Linked DNA regions of Homo sapiens. The protein of the gene in region 1 interacts with the protein of each later gene in a pairwise test. Each region holds a gene or a part of one and is shown in the gene's direction. Other genes may lie near its edges.

Region 1 (7,460 bases):
TGAGATAGGGTTTTACCATTGGCCAGGCTGGTCTTGAATTCCTGGCCTCAAGTAATCCACCCACCTCGGCCTCCCAAAGTGCTGCGATTACAGGCTTGAGCCGCCGCACCCGGCCATTAATTTATATTTTCAGTACGATACATATCATCCCCCCATACTAAACAAATCAACCCAAAAATTTTGATTTCGCTTAATTTCGCCTAACAAATATCTAACATGTATATAGCACTTTATAGATTAAGTGTGTTACTATTTTCTGTGCAGTGGGCAGGAATTATAACTTCTACAGATGGAAAATGGTCTCTTATTGAGAAGTTTTTTGTCAAAAGATAACCGTCAAAAGGATTCATGTCCGGGTTTCATCACTGTGTAGTCCCATACTGTTTATCACTCCATCACAATTTGAAGGCTGTCTGAAATATCCATGAACTCCACTGGTAATTCATGGAGTTCAACTCTCTTAACCACCCTCCTCCCTGACCCATGATTTTTACCCTAACAGCCATGAGAGTTTCCAAAAATGTTATGTTTTACTTTTCTAGTGTATGTCAAAAGACATTTTGTACTGTTTTAAAATTACTATTCTTGCTATTCAAAGAATAAAAAGTATTGTTTTTCAGATGATGGGTGGATCATGCTATAAAATGGTAACAAAGTTTTGGAAATAATAGCTTTAGATTATTCCAAAAAGAAAAAAAAGAAAGCCTTTCTTGAGTATAAATTGTTTTTATGAGTTCAAGGTTACATTGGCCTCATCTTAATAATTAGCGATGATTCAGATATTTTGGAATAGCTTTATATTTTTATTTATTTTTCTTTTTGAGACAGAGTGCCACTAATATTGCCCAGGCTGGTCTCTTAACTACTGGCCTCAAGCGGTCTTCCCACCTCAGCCTCCTGAGAAGCTGGGATTACAGGTGCACACTACCAAGCGCGGCTTAGAATAGCTTTTTAGAAAACCTAAACTTTTTATGTTCTGCAACTCTCCTCATATTGAAACGTTCATGTCCAACTGTTTTTCACCTTTTCTAATGAAAGTATTCTCCAAAGAACAAATTGGAATGCTTCCAATTATAGTTGTTCCCCCTTATCCTAGGGGGACACATTGCAAGACTCCCCAATGAATCCCTGAAACTGAAGTCTGTATACACTGCCGAAGCCTAAGTATACCATGTTTTTTAGATCTAATAACCAAGATGGGCTGATAGCGTATACAGCATGGATACACTGGACAAAGGGATGATTCACGTCCTAGGCAGGAGGGGGCAAACTTTCATTTTGCTACTCAGAACATGCTCTTGCCCCATTTAAAACTTAGGAATTGGCCAGGTGCAGTGGTTCATGCCTAATCCCAGCACTTTGGGAGACTGAGGTGGGCGGATTACTTGAGGCCAGGAGTTTGAGACCAGCCTGGCCAACATGGTGAAACCCCGTCTCTACCAAAAATTAAAAATTAGCCGGGCGTGGTGGCACGTGCCTATAATCCCAGCTACTTGAGAGGCTCAGGTAGGAGAATCACTTAAACCTGGGAGGCGGAGGTTGCAGTGAGTCAAGATCACACTACTGCACTTTAGCCTGGGTGGCAGAGCGAGACTCCATCTCAAAAACAAAACAAAAAACTTACGAATTATTTATTTCTGGAATTTTTCATTTAATATGTTCGGACCTTAGGTAATTAAAACCACAGATAAGGGGGGATCACCCTAACATGAACGCTGTTTATTCTAGGAATGGAGAGCTGGTCACTTTACTAAGACAGTGCCGTAGAACAGAACTTGTTACTAATTCCTATGCTTAGGGCTTTGTTTTTTAATCACAAGATTCTAGCACCTCCCCTATCTTCCAGACTTGGATTTTGAACTTTAAAATTTTGAAGTAGTGTTGTGAATCAGTTGAATATTATTAACTTGTAGAATAATTTATGTAATTCCATGACTAGGTAACTGTATAATTCTGAAAACCTGAACAGTCAAGGCCATTTGGTTCACTTTGATTCTCAACTCCAGAATTAATATGAACTTTGATACAGAATCATTTTCTATTTCAGAAAGGCTAACCCTGTTTAAAAAGCATGTTAGCCTTACAACTTACCGTATATTTTCTACACTGTTAGTCCTAAAAATTTTATTGTGTGATGTGATTGACGTTAAACCTTAACATGGGAATGGGTTGTATGTGGGTTTTTTTGTTTTTTTGTTTTTGAGACGGAGTTTGCACTGTCACCCAGGCTGGAGTGCAGTGGCTTGATCTCAGCTCACTGCAAGCTCCGCCTCCTGGGTTCGCGCCATTCTCTTGCCTCAGCCTCCTGAGTAGCTGGGACTACAGGTGCCCACCATTATGCCTGGCTAATTTTTTGTATTTTTAGTAGAGACGGGGTTTCACCTTGTTAGCCAGGATGGTCTCAATCTCCTGACTTCGTGATCCGCCCTCCTCGGCCTCCCAAAGTGCTGGGATTACAGGCGTGAGCCACCGCGCCCGGCCATGTTTTTTGATATTCTGAATAAAAAGGATATAGCAGTTGGGATAGGCTTGGGTTCTTGTCCTTTATGTTCTTGTCCTTTCCTCATGATAATCAAATCATAATTAGAAATAAGATGCTAAGAATACAAAGGTGGCTCTATGTTAATACTGTATTGATAGGTCAAAGGAGAAAAAGCATGAGATCAATTCATTAGATACTGAAAAGTCTTTTGAGGGAATTTAATGTCTTCTTGCTTTCTTTATTAACAGAATAGGAATAAATAATAGCATAGGCATAAATTAAAAATAATGTAATTTTTTAAAATCTCAAACTAAAAATGGGAATCATACTTAAACATTAGCATTCCCAGGAGAGTTGGAGCAAGACCTCTGTGCCCACTATCACTCAACATTTCATTATTTAAGTCCTAGCAAGTGCAAAACAGAAAAGATGCATAAATATTAGAGAAGGAAAGTTATTTTTTGCAAATGGCGTATTTTTTATCTGGAAATACCAGAGAATCAAGTGAGAAACTTTGAAGAATAAAATAATTCAGTAATGATGCTTCCTACCCTAGGTTAATTAATATAAAGAAGAGTTAAATTCCTATGGCATATTTCTGGTAACAAAAACATCACTAAACTTTTAAATAAAACCCAAAACACTTCTAGTATTAAACATTTAAATGAGCTGGGCGCAGTGGCTCACGCCTGTAATCCCAGCACTTTGGGAGGCCAAGGTGGGCGGATCACAAGGTCAAGAGATGGAGACCATCCTGGACAACATGGTGAAACCCCGTCTCTACTAAAAATACAAAAATTAGTGGGTGTAGTGGCCCGCACCTGTAGTCCCAGCTACTCAGGAGACTGAGGCACGAGAATCGCTTAAACTGAGGAGGCGGAGGTTACAGTGAACCAAGATCGCGCCACTGCACTCCAGTCTGGCGACAGAGCGAGACTCCATCTCAAAAAAAAAAAAAAATTTAAATGATTTCTACTAAAAATTTTAAAAATTAGCATGCCTATGGTCCCAGCTACTCAAAGGCTAAGGTGGGAGGATCCACTTGAGCCTGGGAGGTGGAGGTTGCAGTGAGCTGTGATCACACCACTGCACTCCAGCCTCGGTGACAGAGCAAGACCCTGTCTCAAAAAAAAATTGAATGAATGTGAGCTGTGTATACATTTAAGAAAGATTAATAAAAAGATAATTATTTGCCTCCCTCTTCCAGTTCAGGGTCTCAATGGCTGGAGCCTTTCTTGGCAATTCAGAGTCCAAGTTGGGAACCAGCCCTGAACTGGACGCCATCCCAGCACAGGGTGCTCTCACCTACACCCACGCTCACAGACTGGGCCGCGTAGACACATCCATTCATGTGCATCTTTGGGATATGGGAGGAAACTGGAGTACTTGGAGAAGACCCATAAAGATGGGAGAATGAGCCAGCTTCACACAGACAGTGACCTCAGCTGAGACTTTTTGTTTTTTCTTCTCATCAACATTATAACAAAACAAAGTTGAATGAAACGTCTTTCGAGGACCTGCTATAGACTAAAATTTTAAAACCCTGTCCCATATATGAACGAACAATTAGAAAATACAGTAGAAGAAAAGAGCCTATTTACAACCACAGGGAAAAGTTTAACAGAAATCCCTTAAAAGAAATGTATATAGGAGATCTGATCAAGAAAATAAACTACATGAAAAGGACAGGAACTAAACAGTCCTCTGTGTCTGCATTTGCGGGTAGAAAATATTCAGGGAGCCGGGTGCGGTGGCTCATGCCTGTAATCCCAGCACTTTGGGAGGCTGAGGCGGGCGGATCACGTGAGGCCAGGAGTTCAAGAGCAGCCTGGCCAACGTGGTGAAACCCTGTCTCTATTAAAAATACAAAAAATTAGCCGGGCATGGCGGCGCTTGCCTATAATCCCAGTTACTCAGGAGGCTGAGGCAGGAGAATCTCTTGAACCCAGGAGATGGAGGTTGCAGTGAGCTGACATCATGCTATTGCACTCTAGCCTGGGCAACAGAGTGAGACCCTGTCTCAAAAAAAAAAAAATACTTGGGGGAAACAATAAAAATAACCATAGAAAATATAAGTTAATATAATTATATAGTATTCACACTTTTAAGTATTATAAATAATATAGAGATGATTTATACGGGAAGATGTGCATAGGTTATATGCAAATACTACACCATTTTATATCAGGTACTTGAGCATCCTGGGATTTGAGTATCTATGGGGGTCCTAGAACCAATCTCCCTCAGGTACCGAGGGACTATACTATACCTTGTTCTTGAACGAGATGATTTGACATTTTAAATAGATGTTCCCCTAGATTAATCTGTAAATATAATACATTTCCAACCAGAATGCTAACACATTAATTTTTTTTTTTAACGATCTGGAAAAAATAAAAATACATAGGAAAATCTGAAAAAAAAAAAAAAAAAAAAGACAGTAGGGTGACTCACATTAATGTTTATTTAAAATATATTGTAAAGCTTCTGTAATTAAAATGGAATGGTACAGTTGCAGACCAGTAGAAAAGAATAAAGTCAGCTGGGCACAGTATCTCACGCCTGTAATCCCAAGACTTTGGGAGGCCGAGGCAGGCAGATCACTTGAGCTCCGGAGTTCAAGACCAGCCTGGGCAACATGGTGAAACTCCATCTCTACAAAAAAACTAGCTGGGCAGGATCGATTGAGCCCAGAAGGTCGAGTCTGCAGTGAGCTTATGATGGTGCCACTGCACTCTGGCCAGGGAACAAAGCAAGACTGTTTCAAAAAGAAAAGAATAAAGTCCACAATATCTGTGGGAAATGAAGGAGGCTCTATAGCCTGCTTGTTAAGAGCCTAAGTTCTGGAGTCATACTGGGTTTGAACTGCTTCTCTCCTTGTCATTAGCTCTGGGACCTTAAACAAGTTAACTTGCCAAGCTTCCTCTTCTCCAGCTGTAAACTGGGGGTGAAAATAAAATTTGTATCTGGGTTCTGGAGCTACCAAGTGAGGTGGTGCACAGTACACCACCATGTTCCATGTTTCATGGTAAATATTGGATAGATGCTAGTTATAAATGGCAGCAGTATAGTGTAGTAAAGGTAGCTTGTCCAATTAGCTGAGAAAAGATAGATAGTTGATAATTATTGTTTGGAAGAATTTAAAGGTTTTAAACAAGAAGTTAAACCATAAAAATACTATATGAAAGCAAGGCAGAGTAGGGAAGGCCTTTGTAAATATATCACAAAATCCAGAAGCCACGTATAGGAAAACATTGATAGATTTGATGACATGAAATTTAAAACTTTTGTATAACCAAAATATGCCCTTTAAGAGATCTACAGATAAAAGGAATTTTGGAGAAATTTTTTTTTTTTTTTTTTTTTTTTTTTTTTTTTTTGATATGGAGTAGCCCTCCGTTGCCCAGGCTGGAGTGCAGTGGCGCAATCTCGGCTCACTGCAAGCTCCGCCTCCCAGGTTCATGCCATTCTCCTGCCTCAGCCTCCCAAGTAGCTGGGACTACAGGCACCCGCCACCACACTGGGCTAATCGTTTTTTTGTATTTTTAGTAGAGACGGGGTTTCACCGTGTTAGCCAGGATGGTCTCGATCTCTTGACCTCGTGATCCGCCTGCCTCGGCCTCCCAAAGTGCTGGGATTATAGGCGTGAGCCACTGCACCCGGCCAAAAAATTTTAATCTCATATATGAAAGCTAGTCTGCTTAGTATCTTACAAAGCAGTGAGAGAAAAAGATGTGCTACTGAGTAATAAAATGATCAAAGGCAAAGAGTACCTACAGTCTTTTATTTATATAAAGTCAAAGAACAAGCAAAATTAAGTCAAAAATTGACTGCCATGAGGCAAGGTAGTTGATTGGAAAAGAGCATGAGTAAACTTTCTGGAGTGAGAAATGTTCTGTATCTTGGGGTGGTTATAGGGGCGTATACAATTATCAGAGCTTGTTAATCTGAACACTTAAGATCTCTGCATTTTGTTGAGTGCTAATTACACTTCAATTTAAAAATTGGTAAAAGTACTCCAGGACATCAATAAATTTAAATTTGGGAGTACACACAGTGGCTCATGGCTATAATCCCAATACTTTGGGAGGCTGAGGCAGGAGGGTCCTTTGATCCCAGGAGTTTGAGACCGGGTCTGGGCAACATAGTGAGACACCTGTCTCTGCAATAAATTTTTAAAATTTTAAGAAATTTGCTGGGCATGATGGCACACACCTGTAGTACCGGCTATTAGGGAGACTGAGGCAAGAAGATGACTTGAGCCCAGGAGGTCAAGATTGCAGTGAGCTGTGATCTCTCTCGCCACTGCACTCCAGCCTGGGTGACAGAATGAGACCCTGTCTCCAAAAAAAAGACGAGGAAATGTAAGTTAAAATAAGACGCTAATTTTTAATATCTATTGTCATTATAAACAATAAATTTAATAATATCCAGTGGTAAAAGGAGTTAGAGAAATGAGTGTAAATTGGCATGGACTTTTCAAATGGATTTTAGATAAATTTATCTGTTGACTCTAAATTCCATGTCCAGTGCTTTTTCCTGGTGTTAGATTCTCACACACAAACAAAGAAGTGTTGAGAGATGTTCACTGTATCATACTTAAAACAACTTATACTGCTACAAAAAGAAGGTAAATTAAATTGCAAATCATTTTTGTATGATGTGCAGCCATTAAAAGGGATGAAGTTAATAGAGCTGTATGAACTATTATGGAAAACTTTCCTATGTAAAGAAAAACACATTACATAAATAAGATTCCGCTTAAGTAATAATAATGTATGCATAGAAAGTTCCTTAAGGAATATTTAAGAAATGGTGAACACTGATTTTGAAATTTTTCTTTCTTCCTTCATTTCTTTTCTTTTTTTAGGAAAATGTCTGATGAATTTTCGGTAAGTTGATCAGTTTATCTGTGATAAGTTTTTCATCTCTTAAGAAAAACAACATGGTCCTAACTGGGCTACGTAAATCTTTTCAC
Region 2 (7,857 bases), on another chromosome or scaffold:
TACCATAAGCCAGGCACTGTGTTGAGAAGTTCACGTGCATTTCCATATTTAAACCTTCTTCCTACCCCAAACCTATTGTTTTTACAACTTTGCAGATGAAGAAATGTCAGAGAAGTTAAGTATATACAAAGCCACCTTTATCAAGTAGTAGAGTAGGAATTCCAATTCAAGTGTGTCAGCTGCCACCACCCGAGCTCTTAACTGCCTCCTCTCATGTGGGCAAGGAACAAGGCAATAGTAAGGGAAAAACCCCCAAGAAATGGCAGAGATCACCGATGGTGTTGCCAGGAGAGAGAAGCCACAGAGTCACAGCTTTGCTTGCAGAATATTCAAGGTTCCTTTTCAAAGTCCTAGAAATGGCTGGCTGCTCTGCAGCCCTGTCCTGTTGCTGAGACAACATGAGGGGGAGGCCCATTCCCATGAAACATGGCTGCAACCTCCTCTTCCTTTAGCTGTGATGGTTAATTCCCCAAGATATTTGCCTGGGATACTCCTATGCATGGATCCTGCCTCTGGGCAGTTTGACCCATTGAGCATTATTCGCATGGGAATGGGGGTCCCTCTGGGTTTTAGGGACCTACAAAAGCGTTTGAGTCCTAAATATTTTATGATTAGTCCCACAATACAAAGAAGAAAACTGCCACATGGAAATCAGTAAATATTTAATTAAATGCAGAGTATAACATTATGTCAACTTCATTAACTGTTGGATTTAGTAGTCATAAAAATTTCATTGCATTTGGTAACAATTTGTAGGTTGGAGTTTTCTCACTGCACAAGATTTCTCGAGTAGGCACTAAGATTGGTGAGAAATCACAGCCCATCACAAATTAAATAAATTACTCATGGCCAAAAACTTTCAAAAGCAAAATGGCAAAAATCCTTTCAATTTTCCTCTATAGCCAAAAAGTTATTTTTATGGTGAGAGGTGGGTGTGTTTAAAATATGTTAGATGAGGAACCTAAAAGGACCTACAAGAGTAAGCAGCCTTAGGGGCTATATGATGATTGTAAAAGAGCCTAGGCCATTCCCACGTTTCTGAGTTTTCCAGCCTAGCCATGTTTGTGTCAGAGATGAAAGCCAGATGAGAAGAGGCTTTGACTGGATGGGAGGTAAGGAGAATTGCCTCCTCCTTAGGCCTTCCTGGTTCCACAGAGAAAAGCTAAGAATCCCAGAATTCTAAATAATGATAGCCAACATTCACTGGATACATACATTAGCCAAGCTATTATAAGCACTTTACATGTATTATTTCATTATCGTAAAACAAGTCTATGAGGTCAGTATTTTATTGTCTCTGTTTCATAGATGAGCAAATGGAGACATTGAGGTTAAACCAACCTGCCCAGGGTAATGTAAGTAGTCAGGGGGAATTCAAGAAGTTTTCCAAGCTAAAAATAATTTACAGATTAAATGGTGTCCATGACCATTAAATGCTTCACTTTAAACTCTAAAAAAGACAGAGACCAAACTCCTCTTCTTCACTACTCTATCTTCAGCACCTCAAACAGTGCTGGGCATAGATACATGTGTTGGAGGAACATAACTCCATGTTGGATGGAAACTGGAATAAGTCAGTTTATATCACACTGCTCTGCACCAGGCACTTATGGAATGCTTTGCCCCGCCTCTGTCACTAGGTGATTCTGTCTAGGGTAGACATCTTTTTCATCATCTCTAATCCCTGTGTCTTTCACAATTTTGACCCATGATGGATGCTCAAAAATGAACAAAGCCTGGAAAGGCGTAAGTGATTATGTGAATTCGTTTCTCCATCACAGAACAACTTCCCCAGTACAACACAATTCTCCCTCTCTACACAAAACACAAAAGCTGCTATTCAGAAACTCCAAAGGCATGCATTTCAGTGTAATCAACAAGCAAACAACTGTATAACACGTTTATCTGTCAGTTGTTGTTCAAGGGACTTTCCATGTGTTAAGCAATTGGTTAGTAATAGAACATCTGTAGTAATTCTACAAAGCAAGTATTCTTCATTATCATCCCATTTTACAGACTAAGAAATCAAATGTTGTGGGCTGAATTATATGCTGCAATCCTAAACCAAATACCTCAGATGTGACTGTATTTGGAGATGAGTCCTTTAAAGAGGTAGCTAAGATTAAAAAAAAGAAAAAAGCCATTAGGGTGTGTCCTAATCTAATATGACTGGTGTCCTTTAAAGGAGTGATTAGGACAGGGACACATATACAGGGAAGACCATGTGAGGACATAGGGAGAACACAGCCAAGTGCAAGCCAGCGAGAGAGACTTCAGAGTGAAACTAACAATGCCAACATCTTGGTCTTGGCCTTCTAACCTCTAGAATGGCAAGGAAATAAAATTCTGTTGTTTAAGCCACACAGTCTGTGGACTTCGTTATGGTAGCCCTACCAAACTAATACACCAAGGCACAGAGTAACTTGCCTAAGCTTACATTGCCAGAAAACGTGAACTCAGAATCTGAACCCAGGGACTCTGGTTCCCGAGAATATGTATTTAATGATAAGAAATGTTCTCTGTGCTGTCCAATATGGTAGCCACTAGCCATATGTGGCTACTGAGCACATAATATGTGGCTAATGCAAATGAGGAGCTGAATTTTTCATTTAATTTATATAAAAATAAAGTTAAAATTAAAACAACCCCATGTGGCTAGTGGCTACCATATGGACATAGCTTTATACTATTTCTAAGTACATCACTTAAGATTTTTGCAGAATTTTCTAGAAATCTCGTCTGTGCACTCTAAAAACATGCTCTATCTTTGTTCCGTATCCCTGCTGTATTTGATTTTTTTTTTTTTTTTTTTTGCAGTCCTTTCTGATTTAGCCCCCGTTGCCTGGTCTCCTGCTGAGGGGGAGAGGGAACAGGAAGAGTGAGTGAGCTGGCTAACTTCCAGAATCCTGGGGCCTGGGCAGTGCAGGGTCGTTGGCGTTCTGCTCTAAGCTTAAGGTGTTAGCCAACCAAATGCCAAGCAGCACAAACACTGAGTGACATTTTCAGAACTATTAATATTTCATCAGAAATGATCACTTTTCCTTTAAATACACTATTTTAAAAGGTTTTCTACATTCTTAACTATAATTTTATTCAGTCTAGGCCCTCAGAATTTTCCCCAAAGGAACACATCTTCAATTTTGTAATGAAAATCAAAGGAGAATGAAGCTCAGATTTCAAAATTTAGAGTAAACATTTCCAGGAACTCAGCCCCTCTGTAAAGAGCAAGGTTGCGTATTGGGCACCTACTGTATACCAGGCACTTTACATACAGTATACCATTAATTCATCCAACACATATTTTTTGAGTGCCTACTATGTGCCAGAAACATGATCCTCATAATTTATTAACACCATTTTACAGAAAAGGAATTCCTCTCATCCTTCTCAAATTTTTCTCCTCAAAGAAGTCGGCCTGGACCACCATGGAATATTGCCTCCCCTCTTCTCCCCAGTGCCTCACTTTGTTACTAGGTTGGTACAAAAGTAATTGTGGTTTTTGCCATTGCAAGTGATGGCAAAAACCGCAATTACTTTTGCACCAACCTAATAGTTATTTTCCATCAGAGTCCCATTGCATCTGTAATTATTGCTGCTTTACTCGCTTGGCTGGTTTGCATCGATCTCTCCTCGCTAGTATACAGGCTCCAGGAGAGCAGGGACCATGCCATTTTTGCCCACCCTTATGCTTCTTCAGTGCCCAGCAACTCATCGGGCACAGAGGAGGGGTTGCATCAGTACTGGGGGAATTATGAATGGGGATGGGAGAAGTTCAGAAAGTTCTTAAGGTCACACAGCTCGGAAATGAGTGTCAGGATTCAACCCAGCCCTGCATTTATAGACTGCCATCTTCCTCTATTTGTGTCCATTCTTCTTTCTTCCGTCTCCACCCTCTTGCTTTTCCTTTTCAGGGGAATTGCTAGAGAAGCAACCCCCTGACTCTCGGAACCAGAAAGTCTCCCTCAGCAGAGGTACTGTGTCAGTGCCCAATTGAATGAAGCCGCTTCAGTGAGGGTAGGGGCCTGTTGATCAGCAAACAGCTAACTTAGCCCTTCTCCCTGCACCTCGGACCTCCTACTCCTGCTCCTACCCACCTACTGAAGCTGTCTCAGTGGTCAAGGGCTAGATCAGGCCTAGAGTGCTGGGGTCTGAGTCTCAGCTTCCCTTTTCTCAGGGGGCCTTGGACGCAATCCCTTATGACTTTGAGATTCGCTTTCCTCCCGTGTAGAACGATAATAAAAAGTGGTACTAATTTCACGAGCTTTAATAGGATTGAATGTGAGCCCAGCGCTTGGCACAGGGCAAGCGCCCCATAAAATGGCAGTTAGGATTAAAATCGAGGTTGCCGGGGGACCCCCAGGCAGGAGCTGAGATTTGTGTGGAGCGGCGAAGTGGGGCGGCGGCGCGTTTGGCTTTGACTTCTGATCCCCCGAAGCGCTCTGGGGTCCTTTGGGCCCCACCCCCACCCACCCCACCGGCGGGTCTTGGGCTCCGAACCCAGGGCGCCCCGCGCACCGAGCCGTTGCGTTTGAAACCCACAGAAAGAATTCCCCCGCTCGACGACGGCGAGGGTGTGGGAGCTACTGGCAGGCAAATTGGTGGGAGCCGCCCGGCCCAGCCTGCCTTGCCGAGTCAGCGCGCTCTTGAGCCGCTGGGCCCTTCCCGGTGCCCGCCTGGCAGCGCGGCGCGGCTGGGGCAGGGGTCTGCTGGGGGCCGGGGACTAAGGGCTGTGGGCCCATCCACACACGCCTCATCCCTTCTTTCCGGGGGCAGCAGAGCAGCAGCGGGAGACCGGGAGCAGGAGGGGTAGGGCGAGAGAAAAGCAGGACCTGGGCCGGGGGTGGGAGTCGGGCCGTTGACGCTCGCTCTGCGAGGGGCTCCCTGGGAACGCCCAGGCGAGCGCCTCCTGCGGGGCCCCGCCCCCCGAGTGCCTACAATGGTGCCAGGCCCGCACCCAGTCCTCCGCGTGGCTTAGCGGGACAGCATGGGCTGAGCCCAGGCGCCGAAAGTTGTCACGGCGGCGTCGCAAGGGGGCAGTGCCAGGGACTGTGGGGAGAGCCAGCCCTCCCCTTCCAGCTGTTCCCAGATGTCATTCTGCCCGCCCAGGCGCCTGGTTCCTGAGCTCCGCAGCATTCCACTGTTCCTAAGCTACTGGTTTTTGTTGACTTTTAAATATTTTCTTCTAAGGGAGAGGGGGAGGGAGGCAAAAGTCAGGAAAGAGCAAATAAAAACAAATCAAAATAAGCCCTCCCCTCCCCAAAAGAAAGCTGTCCTCCACCCACCCCTCCCACACAAATAGAAGGCCTCTGAACCTAACCACCTTGCTGGAGCGAAAGCCAGACAGAACTGACCCACTTCTGCCAAGCCCCATCCTCATCTCCCTTTCTGGTGAATGAGGGGTGGTGGTGGTTGTGTTCTAGCCCTGGGTGGACAGAGGGGCTTCCAGAAAGAGAGGAGGAGGATGGCCAGCGGGAATGGGCTTCCTTCATCCTCGGCCCTGGTGGCCAAGGGCCCCTGCGCCCTGGGCCCATTCCCCAGATACATCTGGATCCACCAGGACACACCCCAAGACAGCCTAGACAAGACTTGCCATGAAATCTGGAAGAGAGTTCAAGGCCTGCCTGAGGCCTCACAGCCCTGGACCTCCATGGAGCAGCTCTCTGTCCCTGTGGTTGGAACTCTAAGAGGCAATGAGCTCAGCTTTCAAGAAGAGTAAGTACCCCCCTACTCCATTGGCAGCAAGGGAGGAGGGAGGAGATGAAGTCTGACCTTCTGGGGGAATGTTCTGGCCCACTGTTGAGGCTGGTGAAACCCTAAAGGCTGTATATTGCCCCCTCCATGGTCCTTTGTCCAAGCTTTATAGAAGAGCTGACCAAAGTTCTGAAGTTTTGTGGGTGAAGAGTCAGATTAGGGCTATATTCCAGGCTGCCTCTTCACCAGCCCGTTAAGCAGACATTTCTCATCCTAAACGCATGTGAATCTGAGGTCCTTGAAAAACCACCCTAGCTAAGGCTAAGGGTTATATGGCTTGTGGCTTTCCCCAGAAGCAACTAGAAGATCCTTCCCCTCTCCCACCTAAAGGCTAGGCATTCACATGGATGAGTCTGATGGTTTTAAATCACATCTGGAATTCCCTAATACAGGGAGCAGCTGTCCCATTCAGCCTCCACAGAAGCTGCTGCAAGAGCACACATCAAAATATTTACTGGGAAGGCACTGACATATTCAGAGGACATAATAGAAAATTAAAGTGCGGGAAGATGGCTGTAAATAGCCCGTTTCCGGGATGGGAAATCCTGTGTCTGGGAAACACAGAGCTAAGTGTTTCTCCATCAGGGCAAAGTTGGGCAGATATTGTTGAGGATGGATATTCGAAAGGAAAGGAAGGAGCAGAGAGGAAAAAGGGAAATTAGGAAAAGAAAGTAAATCTGCTGTGGTTATTAATACCGCCGTTGAGCACTTACTTATTTCACGTTTTGCATCTTCAAAGTGGACTGTAAACTTAATTAATGTTCCCAGAGTCCCTGTGAGGCAGGTATTAGTGTCCCCATTTTACAGATGGATTAAGTGTTAATAATTAAGAGCTAATTAAAGACTAACCGATAATTAAGTGTTGCCTGCTCCAACACATGCTACAGCTCAGTTCAGAGATGCTCTGGAGTTGGGGAGCCATTCAGGCATTTATCAGCTGCCTCGGGTTTCAGGGATGCCTAAGCAAGAGCTAAGAAGAAAAGCAAAGTGTAAATGACACCCAGCTCTACACTACCTGCTGTCCCTCTGTGGGCTCATTTACTTACTGCAGATGAAGGTGGAAGGCACTTTGGCTAGTCCTGCCTCCCTGCCCTGTGCTCAGCATGACAAGGCTCAGACAGGAATGGCCCATCTACAGCTAAAATCCTGCTGTCAGGCCCTTCAGTGGCACTGAGCCCTTCTCCCCTGCTCATTGCCATCTGCTCTGGGACAGGGCCTTGGCAGGAGGGCCCATGGGGCTGTGCTCTGCTCTCAATGGCCAAGAAGCTGATTGTCCACTTTGTGGACCAAGGGTCAGTAGCAATTTCCAGTAGATGGCATCCTCTTTGCCAGGTCACACAGAGTTAATGGAGACAGACTCGACTTCCAGTCTGCACTTGGCTGAAAATTGAACTGGTGCACCTTTGGCCAGCTGCTTAACTCCATTTGGCCTTTACTTCCTCATTTGCAAATTGAGGGTGATATGTGCTGCCTTGTCTACCTCAGAGTTGATAATGAGGATCCAATGTGATGGGAGACAGGGAAATGAAAGATGCATTATACAAATCAGGCTGCTCTTAACATGTACTTCTTCAGGTTGGGATTTGTTGTTGTTGTTGTTGTTTTTGTTGTTGTTGGCTTCAATCTGGGGTTCACACTATGCTCCATATACCTCAAGGTGCTTCAGGGGTCACTGTGGAGTCAAGTGGGCTGGTTGCTGGGCCCCAAAATCCATTTCAGCCAGAGCTGTTTAGCTTTTATCAGTTTTACTTACTAGAGTTCTGAGTAGGGCTGAATTTGAAAAACATGTTTCTGCTATTGAGAAAAGAGATAGGAAACCAATGACTTAGACGAATAAACGACATCCTAATTGTCAACCAAATAGAACACAATGAGCTATTCTTAAAATAAAGGCGGTGTGCTGGTGGAGTCAGATAACTCTGGTTTCAGATTCCATTTCAGCCCCATGCCATTTGAAGAATTTGTTACTCTTTAATTTATCTAAACTTTGGTTTCCTCATCTGCCAAATGGAGATTAATACTATACATTTTGTAGGGTTGTTGGAATGATTAAATGGGATATTTAAACATTTATGGTAATAATTCAGATTTGTAAAAATTCCTTGC

The links.
Region 2: the proteins of MAPK1IP1L (region 1) and C1orf94 interact in binary tests that used the Homo sapiens proteins (3 or more experiments, as listed by UniProt).

What each region holds. Positions count from the first base shown.
Region 1 is NC_000014.9:55,054,328-55,061,787, forward strand, and holds part of MAPK1IP1L (MAPK-interacting and spindle-stabilizing protein-like), read left to right. Parts: intron 1-6,827; exon of another isoform or gene 6,828-6,844; coding exon of another isoform or gene 6,845-6,846; intron 6,847-7,352; coding exon of another isoform or gene 7,353-7,356; coding exon 7,357-7,374; intron 7,375-7,460.
Region 2 is NC_000001.11:34,172,398-34,180,254, forward strand, and holds the start of C1orf94 (uncharacterized protein C1orf94), read left to right. Parts: upstream 1-4,509; 5' UTR 4,510-5,392; coding exon 5,393-5,712; intron 5,713-7,857.